Linked DNA regions of Homo sapiens: all the other regions are reported to be linked to region 1. The links are microRNA targets in miRTarBase. Many come from high-throughput screens and were not tested one by one. Region 1 holds a microRNA gene; each other region holds the end of a gene's coding sequence.

Region 1 (3,216 bases):
CAGTTAAAATTGCCTAACTAGGAAAAGTCTGGGTTTTAATAGCACCTTAAAGTAGACTGTGATTTCTGGTCTGTCTTATTGGAAAAGGATATGTCAGAGTATGGTTTTCTGAGGTTGATGCTCTTCTTCTCTTTCTTAAGAGCCCTAGGAAGGGTAGCTGGCTCATTGAGCTATCTGCCTATTATAAGAGCAGTCTGTGACTCATGAAATCTCAGGAGATTTTGTAAAGCAGTTCACTGTGGGCCAGGTAAATGTTTTATTCCCAGAGGCGGGCTCTTGGTTCAGCATTAAGAAGGTAGCAGATTTCACTATTGGGTAGCAGAATTAGTGTAGTACCTATAGATTTAAGTTACGAATATTGATTTATTTTCACTAAGAGTACACATTAATTCTTTTTTGTTTTTTGGAAATGGGGTCTTGCTCTGTCACCCAAGCTGGAGTGCTGGAGTGCAGTGGCACAATCATAGCTTTCTGCAACTTCAGCCTTCTGGGTTCAAGGGATCCTTCCACCTCAGCCTCCTGAGTAGCTGCGACTACAGGCATGTGCTACCATGCCTGGCTAATTTGTAAAAACTTTTTTGTAAAGATGGGGTCTTGCTATGTTGCTCAGGCTGGTCTTGAACTCCTGGGCTCAAGTGATCCTCCTGCCTCAGCCTCTCAAAGTGCTGGGATTGCAGAGTGAGCCTCCATGCCTGACCCCTGTTAGTCATTTTTTTGGGTAACTTTACAGGGATCTCCGTGATGTTATGGTAATTGAGAAAGACACACAGGTTTTGTTGTTTGTTCTTGTTGGTTGTGTAAGATTTCTACCCTCTTTAATACTGAGAGGACTTGAAGCTGACCCAACACTTACCTAGAATTAGACTGTTCATTAAGGCACTTAAAATCTATTTTGTGTGAGTACAGAGAGCATCTGAATGGGTACAGTTGTTGTCTCTTGTTCCTCACACAGGCACCAGAGCAATGGAGCTGTCATTGCCCGCTGTGGACAGCCAGAGGTTAGCTGGTGGGGCTGGCGAAATGCAGATGATGAGCATCTGGTACAGTCAGTAGCCAAAGCTTGTGCCTCTGACTCCCGATCGAGTGGCAGCAAGCTGTCAACTAGGAACACTTCTCGAGACTTTCCCAATGGGGGAGACCTTTCTGACGTGGAGTTCGGTAAGGTGCTCCCTGGACCCATGGCAATGATTTTTATAGCATCTAAGAACCTTTTCTTGAAATGGCCTCTTCCTTACAAGACATAGATTTACTTTTATAGAAGTGAATGTGCAGAGCTTCACTTGATGGGATTGATTGAGGAGTCATGGGTCTTGGCAGAGAATCAGAAGACCCTTTGTTTCAAACCTGAATCAAGATATTAGTGTGTTTGTTGTCTTTCTTGCCATTGTGACAAAAATGGAGTGTTTATGTAATAGAGGACTTGCAGTATCTGCAGACCATGGCAGGAAATGCCAGGCTTCATGAAAGGACAACAGATACAGAAATGAAGTATAAGAGACTGGGCTGTGTGAACCCCATGTGTACTCTGGGAGTCAGTTTTGGAGAATAAATCCTTCTCATCTTTCATAAGAAGGCCACATAGAAAAAAAGAGAAAAATCCTATGTATCAAGGGTTTTGGTTAGGGGATTTCATTTTATTGAGCCTTTTTTGTGCCATAAGATGTGCTTGTGGGTCTAATTCTGCACAGTTCTGGGAGAGACAGGCTCATTTAGTATGCCCTCTCCCTCTGTGTCCCTAGATTCTTCTCTGTCAAATGCTTCAGGAGCAGAGAGTTTAGCCATCCAACCGCAGAAGCTTTTGATCTTGGATGCACGCTCCTATGCAGCTGCTGTGGCAAACCGAGCCAAAGGAGGAGGCTGCGAATGCCCAGGTGAGGTGTATGGTGCTTTGTTCCCCATACTTTCTCCTTGTGAGTGTAGCCCTTGCCCAACTGAGACTTAGTTCCCAATTTGAAATAAGTGGCAAGCCATATTCCTCATCCATCCTGTCGTGAGAGTGCCAGAGCTTCTCTTTGGATTCTTAACACTGTATGTTCTTTTCTGAGGAGAAATGGAGGAGGAGGTGCAGTGAAGTCACATAATCTTCCTTCCTTGTGCCAACTTGTAGGTGATAAGGAAAGCAGATCTTCCCCATAATAAGACCTGTTCATGTTTGGAAGCTGCTGCTTTAGTGGGCTCAATTTCTCAGCCGTCTAAAAGCTTTTTGTTGCCTTTGACAGAGGGTATGCTCACCACTGGCCTTGTAGCAAACTCCTCAAGGGCCTCTCCTTAGAAAACCTGGGGTGAAAATTGAAGCAGTAAATACAGAACCCTAGTAAGGTATCTCTGTCCTGAGCTGTAACACCATTACTGTTGGAATGCTAGCTTTCCCCAAGGAGGGACCCCCCTCAGTGCCTATGGCACAGGCAGAGGCACCAGGCTCTTTGTTCAGATGTGGTCTAAGCTGGAAATTGAAAGCAGCTGTACCAAGGTGAAATTTGAATGTGTGAACGCATTGTTCTGTGGAGTTCTTTTCAAAGAGATTTCAAAGCCACAAGTTAGATAAGGCCCAAGAAGTAAAGCCAGAGTGAGATCGAAGTAGGCCTTTCTTTTAAAAAATAATAGCTTTTATTTTATGTCAGTATCTTCTTTACAAATCTAACCTTCCCTTTTCACGCTTTTTGAAAAGATAGCTAAAATTCAGTGTGTTCCTCTTATTATAAAGGATTGGGCTAATAGTTAAGCATTTCAAAACATTTCAGTTTCGTTAATCAGAAGCTGCAGTGGGTTTGTTTTATAGCCAGTTTGCTTTTAAATTTGGCCATGTGGGCTTTAAGTTCAACGTATTTGTGTTCTCTTTATTGTTACTCTCTCCAGAGTATTACCCAAACTGTGAAGTTGTGTTTATGGGGATGGCAAACATTCATTCTATTCGGAGGAGTTTTCAGTCTCTGCGGTTGCTGTGCACTCAGATGCCAGATCCGGGAAAGTAAGTCCTTGGCCTTGGCTTTCATTTTGCATTGCTCTTAAATAATAAGTTTGCTTCTTTCCTTGAACTAAGGGGGAAAAAAAGAAAAAAAAATTAATTTGGAGCAGTCTTTCCTTCTGTTTCTTGGTAATCTTCAGTTACCAGACCAGTCTCTGCAAGTATCTCCTTGCTGGGTCTGAAATGTGGCAGCACAGAGGAAGAGTTGGGAGAAAATACAGCCATTTGAAAGGTTTTAAAATCTGCAGCAC
Region 2 (3,000 bases), not on the chromosome of region 1:
GTTCGCGGCTGTCGGTGCCGGTTGCGTCATCTTCCTGCTCATCATCATCTTCCTGACGGTCCTACTACTGAAGCTACGCAAGCGGCACCGCAAGCACACACAGCAGCGGGCGGCTGCCCTCTCGCTCAGTACCCTGGCCAGTCCCAAGGGGGGCAGTGGCACAGCGGGCACCGAGCCCAGCGACATCATCATTCCCTTACGGACTACAGAGAACAACTACTGCCCCCACTATGAGAAGGTGAGTGGGGACTACGGGCACCCTGTCTACATCGTCCAAGAGATGCCGCCCCAGAGCCCGGCGAACATCTACTACAAGGTCTGAGTGCCCGGCACGGCCTCAGGCCCCCGAGGGACAGTCGGCCTGGACCGGACCTCTCCTTTCGCCCCCACACCCCCTCCCCTTGCCAGCTGTGCCCACCTTTGTATTTAGTTTTGTAGTTTCTTGGCTTTTATAATCCCCCTTTTTCCCTGCCCCCTGGGCTTCGGAGGGGGGTGCTTGTGCCCCTAACCCCCATGCTCTTGTGCCTTCCCCCTCTGGCCAGGCCTCTGGGCTCCGTGGGGGCGCCCCTTCTTGGAAGGCAGGGCTGGACACTGATGGACAGCAGGCAGGGAGACAGTCCCCTGGCCCTGCCCCTCCCTCGCCCCCCTTGCCACCTTCCCAGGACTGCTTGTCCGCTATCATCACTGTTTTTAATGCTTTTGTGTTCATTTTTTAGCTGTCAACTCATTTTCATCTGTTTTTTGAAGAAAAATGGAAAAATGTAAAAGGCAGCCCCTCCCCAGGCTTTGTGAGCCTGGCCCAAGCCAGTACAAGAGGGCCTGGGGCACGATGTGGTCAGCCAGGAAGCATAGGATGCCATTTCTTTTATAGATTCCTTGGTATTTCTGGTGGGGTAAGGGGCAGGCCAGGGCTGTTCACGCCCATGAGGGAAGAGGAAAGTGCCACTGGGCAAGGTGTCCCACCCTCCCCTCCTGACCCTCCTACGAGGCTTATCCTGGCAATGGGGTAGTCACTGCCACCCTTCCACACACACACACACACACACACACACAAAAAAAAATCCCTTCCTTGTGGGATTCTTGGGCATCTCCTGCCTCCCTCACTCTCACGGTAATTAATGTCTTAATTGGCTGTTGCCTGGGGAACAGGAGAGCTGCTGCAGGCAGATGACCTCATGGGGGGTGGAGGGAGGTGAGGTGCCCAGGTGGCTATTTGCCCTGCAGAGCTGGGAGTTTCACCCCCACCCCCCACCCTGTTCTCTCCTTACCTTTGGCATCCTTTGGCCTGGTGGGGAAACAGAGGCCCAGGGTGGAGACCTAAGCGGGTATAAGACCAGGTGGCCTGCTCCTTTTCTGGGCCCTAGCACAGGTGGGTAACCCCCACCCAACCCAGCTCCTGCTGCTGTCCCAGTCTTGGGCTGGGGCCTGGAAAGAGGAAGAGGCTGCCTGGGGCTGGGCCAGCCCGCTGTGCACTTTGACCCCAGTTCCTTGCCAGCACGGCTGCTAACAGACTGCCACTTGAGTGCGCCTTGCAGGCACTCCCAGAGCAGCCATGGAAGGAGCTGGCCCTCACACCATCCACCTCCACACTGCCTCCTGGCCAGCTGCCCACCCCAGTGCCAGGTGGGAGAGGGAGCAGAACAGCCAGCCCCTTCCAGGTGGCAGTCGGAAGGGTTTTTGTTTTTGTTTCTGTTGCCATTTGTGTAAATACTAGTCTTTTTGGAAAAAAAATAATGTAAAGATGTTTTGTATAAACTCTGAATTATTTTCTTGTTGCTTTTTTCTTAGAAAAAAATGAGAACTAAAAAAAAAAAATTAACCACATGGAGAAATGGGTGTAAAATGGTGTCGTGATGTTGGGAAATGGAGAGTGAGAGTTGTGTGCGTGCGTGTGTGGTGGGGGTGTGTGTGTGTGCGCTTTCCTGTGCTCAAACCACTGGTGACTGGGGCAGGTACGGGCAGATGATGGCTATCCTAGTGGAGCAAGATGTTTTAATGCCCTATGACCCTCCTGCCACTCCCCTCACCCCAGGTTTTTCTGCTCTCTTGTTCTGCTGTCATGGAGCCTGAGACCATTTCCCCTGTTCATCCTGTCACCTCTGTGGCATAGGCCACGGGCATCTGCCCAGTCTGGCACAGGCCCAGTTAGAGAGGGTTAATGGAGGAGGGGATGTTCCCATGGGGACCTGGGTGTGTCCACAAAGTACTGCCACCACCTAGCTGGGGCTAGATCTGGGACCTGCTGGCAGGCCCAGCCCTGCCCTGCCTCAGGACGCCTGGAGGTGGATAGAAATAACTTCCCAAGATCTGAACTTCAGCTGCAGCCTACTGGGTATTGGGCCTGCTTCAGGCTGCCCAGTTCACCTCTCAGCCAGAAGAATCTTGCTTCTGAGCTGGGCCACACCACAGCCACCACCATGGCATAGTTGGGGGCTTCTGGCCAGCAGTCGATACCCTCAAGCTAGAGCAGCCTTGAGCACCCGGTCTACCTCCCACAGGCTGATGAGTAACTTGCTCAAGTCAAAGAGTGTGGTGAGGGCCCTGAAGAGGGTTTGGCCTCCATCCCACAGCGGAGAGGCAGACTGGCAGGGCCTGGAGCCTTCCTGCTCCAGCCTGGAGCCGCCTGCTGGTCTTGTGGGGGGACTCCCTGTGGAGACGGCTAAGACAGATGTCAGGGGAAGAGGACAAGTGAGATCCAGCAGCTAAAAATGGGGTAGAAGGCAGCAGAGGAAAGAGGAAGAAGAAGGAGAGAGAGAGTGATCCAGAGTAGGAAGCCCCAGAGAATTAGCCAAGGTGCCACCCGGGCTATGAGGGAAGTGGGGAGCTGGTGGAGAAGAAAGGGGGCGGAAAGCCACAGGGCCTGCAGGCGGAGGGAAGGAAGGTTGGGCTAGTGTAGGGCTGGGCCTGGCTGGGGTGCTCCTGGAGCCAGCTGGGGCAGAGGCTGTTTATTTGGTTTCTCATTAACCAAAGGAAGTGCCTGGATCAGATGGAGCCTCTGCT
Region 3 (3,089 bases), not on the chromosome of region 1:
ACCTTAATAGCCTCAACTTAGGCAACTCAAATCCACACTCACTAATCAATCTGGGTTTTATGGTCAATTTGTACAGGCACTAAAACAACAACAAAACACCTTAAACTTTAAAGCAGATGGCCCCTAAATAGTTCTCTCCTTTAGTTTTGTTTGAGTAACCTAGGGATCTGAATATTATTAACCACATCTGGAAGTATGTGTGTATGCACGTATGTATTTTTATGTGTAGGGGTACAGACAAGAAACTGAGTTTCATGTTAAAAACTATATTCCTTATAAGGTAATCTGAAAGAGAATAAGGGGAAAGGGGAATGAATAAACAAGTAATCTGCGTTTTTAAAGCGGCACAATAAAACAGGATTTAAAATAAATTTAATATGATAAATATTAATGGATAGTATAGACTTCTAAGACCCTTTCATCCAATTGCCTTCTAAATCAATGGATAAATAAATCAGACTTTATTCTTATATATGCTGGTATAATCAGCAACTGCAGCATTAAAACAAACCTCTTAAGCTGGGTACAGTGGCACACACCTGTAGTCCCAGCTACTTGGGAGGCTGAGGTGGGAGGAAGGCTTGAGCCCAGGAGTTTGAGTCCAGGCTGGGCAAGATAGCGAGACCCCATCTCTAAAAAAATAAAATAAAATAAAATAAATAAATAAAACAAGCCTTTTAATAGTCTGGATCATATAGAAGATTAATATTATGATGGATTGCACATTAATGTCTCAAAGGACACCCCCCGCCAAAATCACCCTACTAAAAATCACACTGGGTTTCTAATCTTGGGGTTTAGAAATTTTCTTCTTATGCTTTAAAAACTCATTTTACTTCCTTTATCCTCTGATTTTTTGGGAAGACAGAGGGTGCTTCTTCTTGGACTCTTGAGTCCTGGACACTAAATTCCTCCCTCAGTTCTAGTGCCCAGGCTAAGCAGAGACACTAAACCCCTTACTTCCTCTCAGTGTTCTCTTTCAGCTGCCTCAATGCTTCACCTGGCTACATTCATACTTCATTCAGAAGTCTGAACAGGGCCGGGCATGGTGGCTCATGCCTGTAGTCCCAGCACTTTGGGAGGCTGAGGCAGGTGGATCATTTGAGGTCAGGAGTTCAAGACCAGGCTGGCCAACATGTGAAACCCCATCTCTACTAAAAATACAAAAATTAGCCAGGCAGTAGTGGTGCATGCCTGTAATCCCAGCTACTCGGTAGGCTGAGGCAAGAGAATCGCTTGAGCCTGGGAAGTGGAGGTTGCGGTGAGCCGAGATCGCACCACTGCACTCCAGTCTGGGCAAGAGTGAGAACCCGTCTTAAAAAAAAAAAAAAAAAAAAAAAAAGACTGGGGCAGAAAAGAGAGATGACTGACAGGTTATGGGAAGGTTCTGGCCCTTTGGGGTGCCAACACTAGATATGAATCCATTAACACTGACATACAATTGACCAGCTGTTATAGAGCCATTCTTGTATCCCTGAAAGGCTGAAATGGGGGAAAAGAGAGAAACAGACTGGCTAGAATACACAGCTCCTCTAGTGGCATTCCTGTTAAAACAACCTCATAGGTCAGAGATGCCACTGATCACTCCTAGATTTCAGTAAATATATAATAACATTAATCATTAATGTCTGAACTTGGGTGTTGGGGACTTTCAGGCTCTGTTTTGTGATTTATCATTTTCACTCTTTCCTAATAATACATCTCTCTCTTTCCTTATGATACAGTTGGTGGAGTCTGACAGAAGGAAGAATATGTAGGGGGAATATTGGGGATACCATGCGAATTATCACATATCAGAAGATAAAATAGAAACCAAAAGGTAGCATCTGTTTTCATCAAAACAGTTTCTTCTCATAACTTTTCTTGCTTTCATTAGAGTTTCCTTGCAGGTTGGCAAAGATTCAGGCAGGGTCCCCTAATGGTAAAATTTAGAATTAAAAAAATATTTATTGATAATATCTTTTTAAAAAATGTTTGGTAATCCCAACTAATCATTCAAAATGCAAACTGTAAACACGACAACAGCAAAAGGGTAACAATTGAGTGAGTAAGCAGACTGAACAGGTGACAGACTGAGCAAGAGTGTGGGGGGGAGCAACAGAGAATGTAAGACAGGTGCACAAGTGTGCTACAGACAGTGATAATTTGAGTGTGTAAGAATTACATTTGGACCACAGTGATTTCAAGGCAACCATTTAGGAAACCTCTGGGCCAAATACTAAAACACAGGAGGAATGGACGAGCCTTCTTTGTGAGCATGCTCAGCATGTTGGCATGGAAACAAGGAAGCATAGAAGCTCTTTAGTCACAATGAATGTCTACCATTTCTAAGATGCAAAGAAATTTTCTTTCTGGTCCCTGGGTACATCATATATTGTCTTTCCATGCTTTTCTTGACCCCGGAGGACAGCAGATGCTGTTCTAAAATCCCCAAAGAAACCCCTAGACAAAAATTTAAAAACCACAGTAGCATTAACACGGGGTTTGCTGGAATGCCCCTCCCTATCTTGGCCTATGATTTTCTTATGGGCACCTCAACAGGAATGGTTAAATTTTACCAATCTACTTGATAAAAAAGCCATCACAAACTTCAGTCCCATGGTCACAAAGCTAGAGTGGATGGGGGTAAGGGTGTGTATGTGTATGTATGTGTGGCTCTGGGGATCTGGACACTGCCCTCCCTCACTTTGTAACCCTTGCTCAGAACACTGGGGTTGCTTCCACTGGAGAGACTCCACGGTAGCTCTAGAAGTGTCATTAAATACTCAGTTCGCCAAGGTTGACCACCTCCATTGTCATAGGATGATGCAGCATCTGCAGAAGCGCTGTCTGCTGCCCCCTACTGATGGGGGTGGAGTGACAGGTGCGAAGTAGGCGTGGACTTTAATATTGGGTAAATGGGTCTGAAACAAGACAGAAACATTAAACGTTTAAGAGAGGGCTTAAACAGAAAGAGCAATGTTGGTTCTTAGAAAAACTACCGAGGGGCTCAATGAACATAAAAGCAGGGCAAAGGCTGAGCACTGGTCAGGATGTTAGAGGGCCTGGGTTCTACTTTGTTCCATCCTAGGTTGTTCTCAATGACCAGA
Region 4 (3,181 bases), not on the chromosome of region 1:
CAATAGGGAATAAAAACCAATTCATCTTTATATGCTTCGGTTATCTTTTCCTTATATTAATGTAAATATTAACCATGATAAAATTGGTTATGATTCTGAGATGCCTGTTATACATGCTCTATTGTATTATTAAAGGGCCTTGTCACATTTTTCTTTGACAGGATGATGAGGTAAGGGAAAGCCGATTCAGCTTCACAGCCTATGGAATGGGACCATGTCTACAAGCAAAGGATGGCATGACTCCAAAGGGCCCCAACCACCCTGTCCAGGTAATGCCAAAAAGTCCTGATGAAATGAGGAAGGTCTTTATCGACCGGGCCAAGAAGATTGATACCATCTCCCGAGCCTGCTTCCCATTAGCTTTTTTGATTTTTAATATTTTCTACTGGGTTATCTATAAAATTCTTAGGCATGAGGATATTCATCAGCAGCAAGATTAAGTCTCTGGGGGCATGCAAATGCAAATGGTCAATTCAGAAGAAAGTGTCTCTGCCATAGGTGTGTATGTGTATATGTGTGCGTGTGGTATACAAATGATGACCATTGTATTAAAATGGCATATGGAAAAGCTTTGTATTTTGGTTAGCTATGCAAAGTCATGAGAAAGATGAGATTCTTTTAATGAATATAAAATATTTATTAGGGGATTCTATTTCATATTAATTCCAGGTGATTTGTTTTTTCACAGTAAACCATGTAAGTGGAAGCTTTACTGCCAATGTGTTTATATGTTATATAATATCTCATAATAGTAGACATGAAAACTACTTTGAAATTCCTTGATTTGTAATTCAATGCTATTAAATCATACAAAAGCAAATTTTGCACAGTAAACCAATAGTTTGAGATTTAAAACTATTTTCTTATAGTATAGTTACAAAATGGGAAAATAATTAGTTACAGTGGGAAATTCACTCATATTAATGGAGGATTGTACATATAAATACTATTTAAACAACATATGTAATTTTGAAAATTTTTAAATAAGAGCATTAAAAGACTTTAATGATTTGGAATACTAAATTTAATTGTTTAGAATATTAAGTTTTCCTCTGTGCAAATTTAAAACAAATAACAAGAGATCGTGTTACAGTCACAATCTACTTTTCTTAAACTTTGTATCTCTAGGAACGAAGGTGGAAATACGGGAAACAACTTTGTTTTTAAATAAGTATTATAGCTATGTATTTTTAGTTATTGCCAAACATTGAACAATTCAAGCCAGCACCCTTGTTTTTGTTAGACTTTTAATAGCTACTTAACTGTATGTGATTGTGTTTAATAATTTGATATAACAGGACAAAATTCAGTAAGACTTTTATATTTTAGTTTAGAATGTGACTTTAAAATTCAATGGGATTAAAGTATTTACATTTTGATAAAAATGAATACAATGAAAACAAAATGGATTCATGGAAGATTTTTTAATAAAAACCATTTTCCCATCAATGTTTTATGGGTCTCAACTCCTATCTCCAAATATAAGTAGGGAAAGTTTTAATTTTAAATGATATAAGTAAGTCATTTCTATAAAGTGAGGACTCTTTTTCTATTTCTGAATTAATGATTTCAAAATCTAAGCCATTCGCAAGATGTGAATAATTTTAAATGAAATTTTTACATAAAATTTTTCAATGACCCCATGGGATTACTTCAACAAAAACAGAGCATTAGTAACTTGTTTTTTGCAGTGTAATTGGGTGCAAATGTATGATAGAGTTCTTGGTAAACAGAACCAGACTCTGACTCTTTTTCAGTTTTGCTATTTTTTTAACTATTTTTACCATAAATTTATTTGGAAAAGCTTTGGAATGCTTTTTAGGTATTTTAATTATTGGTCAGATGCACAAACTCAGTCCACCAAATTATTCACAGAGAAAACTTTAAAGATTAAGAAAACAATGAACTCAGATGTACAATAGAAAAGCCAGTTCTTTAACAAGATGCTATTTTCTACCCTTCAACCACTTTCAAATTAAAAGCAAAAACTACCATTTAAAACTAAAACCTTTACAATGTTATTGTACATCAGCTTATACAATTGTAATTTTTTAAAATAACATTTTAAAAAATAGTAAATGTTAAGCAGTTTTTGCTAGTAAAAGACCAAGTTCCCCTCCTTTATAAGTAACTTAAAACAACACTATAAGGAAATAATATCATGTTTGGCATTATGTGCAAATGACACAACCAAAAGAATTTGTTACTCTGTAAGTACCCACGTTGAGGACTGTGCACCTGAAAATTAAACATATGCTTCTTCATTTGGTGTGTATTTAACAAAACCATGGAAACATATTCTTGTTCTAAAGATTAGAGCAAGATATGTCATTTGTATTCCTTGAGAATTAGCAGGAGAGTTTGAGGTAATTATAAACTACATCATCTCGATGTGTCTCTGAAATACCTGAATACGTTTTTCTATACTTTCCACATCTTATTTCAAAAGTTTCCCAACATTGCTTAAGTGAATTCTGCCAGGAGCAAACAGAAATATAATGAATGCAAACATGCTTACTTCCAAAAGAAATTCACAGACATCACTTCTTTCCATATTTGAGAATATTATAAATGTGTCTTTGTTAAATCAGAAACTTAGAAAGTGAAAATACCAAACATGAGACAATATTGTCAACAAGGACGTTGGTACATTAGAAATCTATCTCAAAAGTATTACACTTTCCTTAGGCATAGTTTTCCTTTCCTATTATATTTGTCACTGTCTTACTGCACTAAGAAAATACTTTAACAGCTTTCACTCACAAGGCAACAGTGACAAGGTGCATGTGGCTGAATCCAATATGTTTAAAGGAATGTGTCTCCTCCTTCGAACTCTTATAGACCTTTTAAAACTGAAAAATTACATTGCAGTTAGCATCCTGAGATAATATTTGCCTCAATAAGCCCTGTGTCCAACCAGAATATTTTAAATTAAACCAACCACAAAATTATTAATGGCAAGAAATTAAAAATGTGTGCATATACATTAACTACTAAACACACAAATTGGAATTCCAATGTGCATATTCTGAAGTATTTTAAAATAGCCACATTAGAAAATATGGGATTTTCATGTATGCAGTTTATATCATTTTCTTAAAAAGAATTATTTGTATGTCAATCATTGAAATATTTGATTCCATAGCATATGAATTTATAGGCTATCTTATACATTAGCATA

Evidence for each region. Region 1 holds the annotated microRNA hsa-miR-6818-5p (UUGUGUGAGUACAGAGAGCAUC, at 893-914, shown strand). A microRNA usually pairs through its seed, bases 2 to 8, with sites in the 3' UTR of a target mRNA and lowers its output. Matches are read on the target gene's strand: a 7mer-m8 pairs with bases 2 to 8, a 7mer-A1 pairs with bases 2 to 7 and ends in A, and an 8mer does both.
Region 2: miRTarBase lists EFNB1 as a target of hsa-miR-6818-5p. Seed matches in the 3' UTR shown: 7mer-A1 at 1,048-1,054.
Region 3: the mRNA of FBXL20 is a reported target of hsa-miR-6818-5p. The part of its 3' UTR that is shown has no 7-base or 8-base seed match.
Region 4: miRTarBase lists GLRA3 as a target of hsa-miR-6818-5p. Seed matches in the 3' UTR shown: 7mer-A1 at 2,999-3,005.

The regions. Positions count from the first base shown.
Region 1 is chr22:30,006,162-30,009,377 of GRCh38, forward strand. It overlaps MIR6818 (microRNA 6818), which reads left to right and starts at 888; the gene lies at 888-952. MTMR3 (myotubularin related protein 3) reads left to right here. Exons shown (of 20, transcript NM_021090.4): 10 at 953-1,158; 11 at 1,740-1,871; 12 at 2,857-2,968. It overlaps HORMAD2-AS1 (HORMAD2 and MTMR3 antisense RNA 1), which reads right to left. Exons shown (of 5, transcript NR_110541.2): 5 at 2,585-3,035.
Region 2 is chrX:68,840,333-68,843,332 of GRCh38, forward strand. It overlaps EFNB1 (ephrin B1), which reads left to right. Exons shown (of 5, transcript NM_004429.5): 5 at 1-1,828. The coding sequence ends at 322. Among named protein-coding and RNA genes, the nearest start is that of EFNB1, 13 kb to the left of the region's middle.
Region 3 is chr17:39,258,665-39,261,753 of GRCh38, forward strand. FBXL20 (F-box and leucine rich repeat protein 20) reads right to left here. Exons shown (of 15, transcript NM_032875.3): 15 at 1-2,903. The coding sequence ends at 2,796. Among named protein-coding and RNA genes, the nearest start is that of STAC2, 34 kb to the left of the region's middle.
Region 4 is chr4:174,641,045-174,644,225 of GRCh38, reverse strand. GLRA3 (glycine receptor alpha 3) reads left to right here. Exons shown (of 10, transcript NM_006529.4): 10 at 162-3,181. The coding sequence ends at 440. Among named protein-coding and RNA genes, the nearest start is that of HPGD, 120 kb to the right of the region's middle.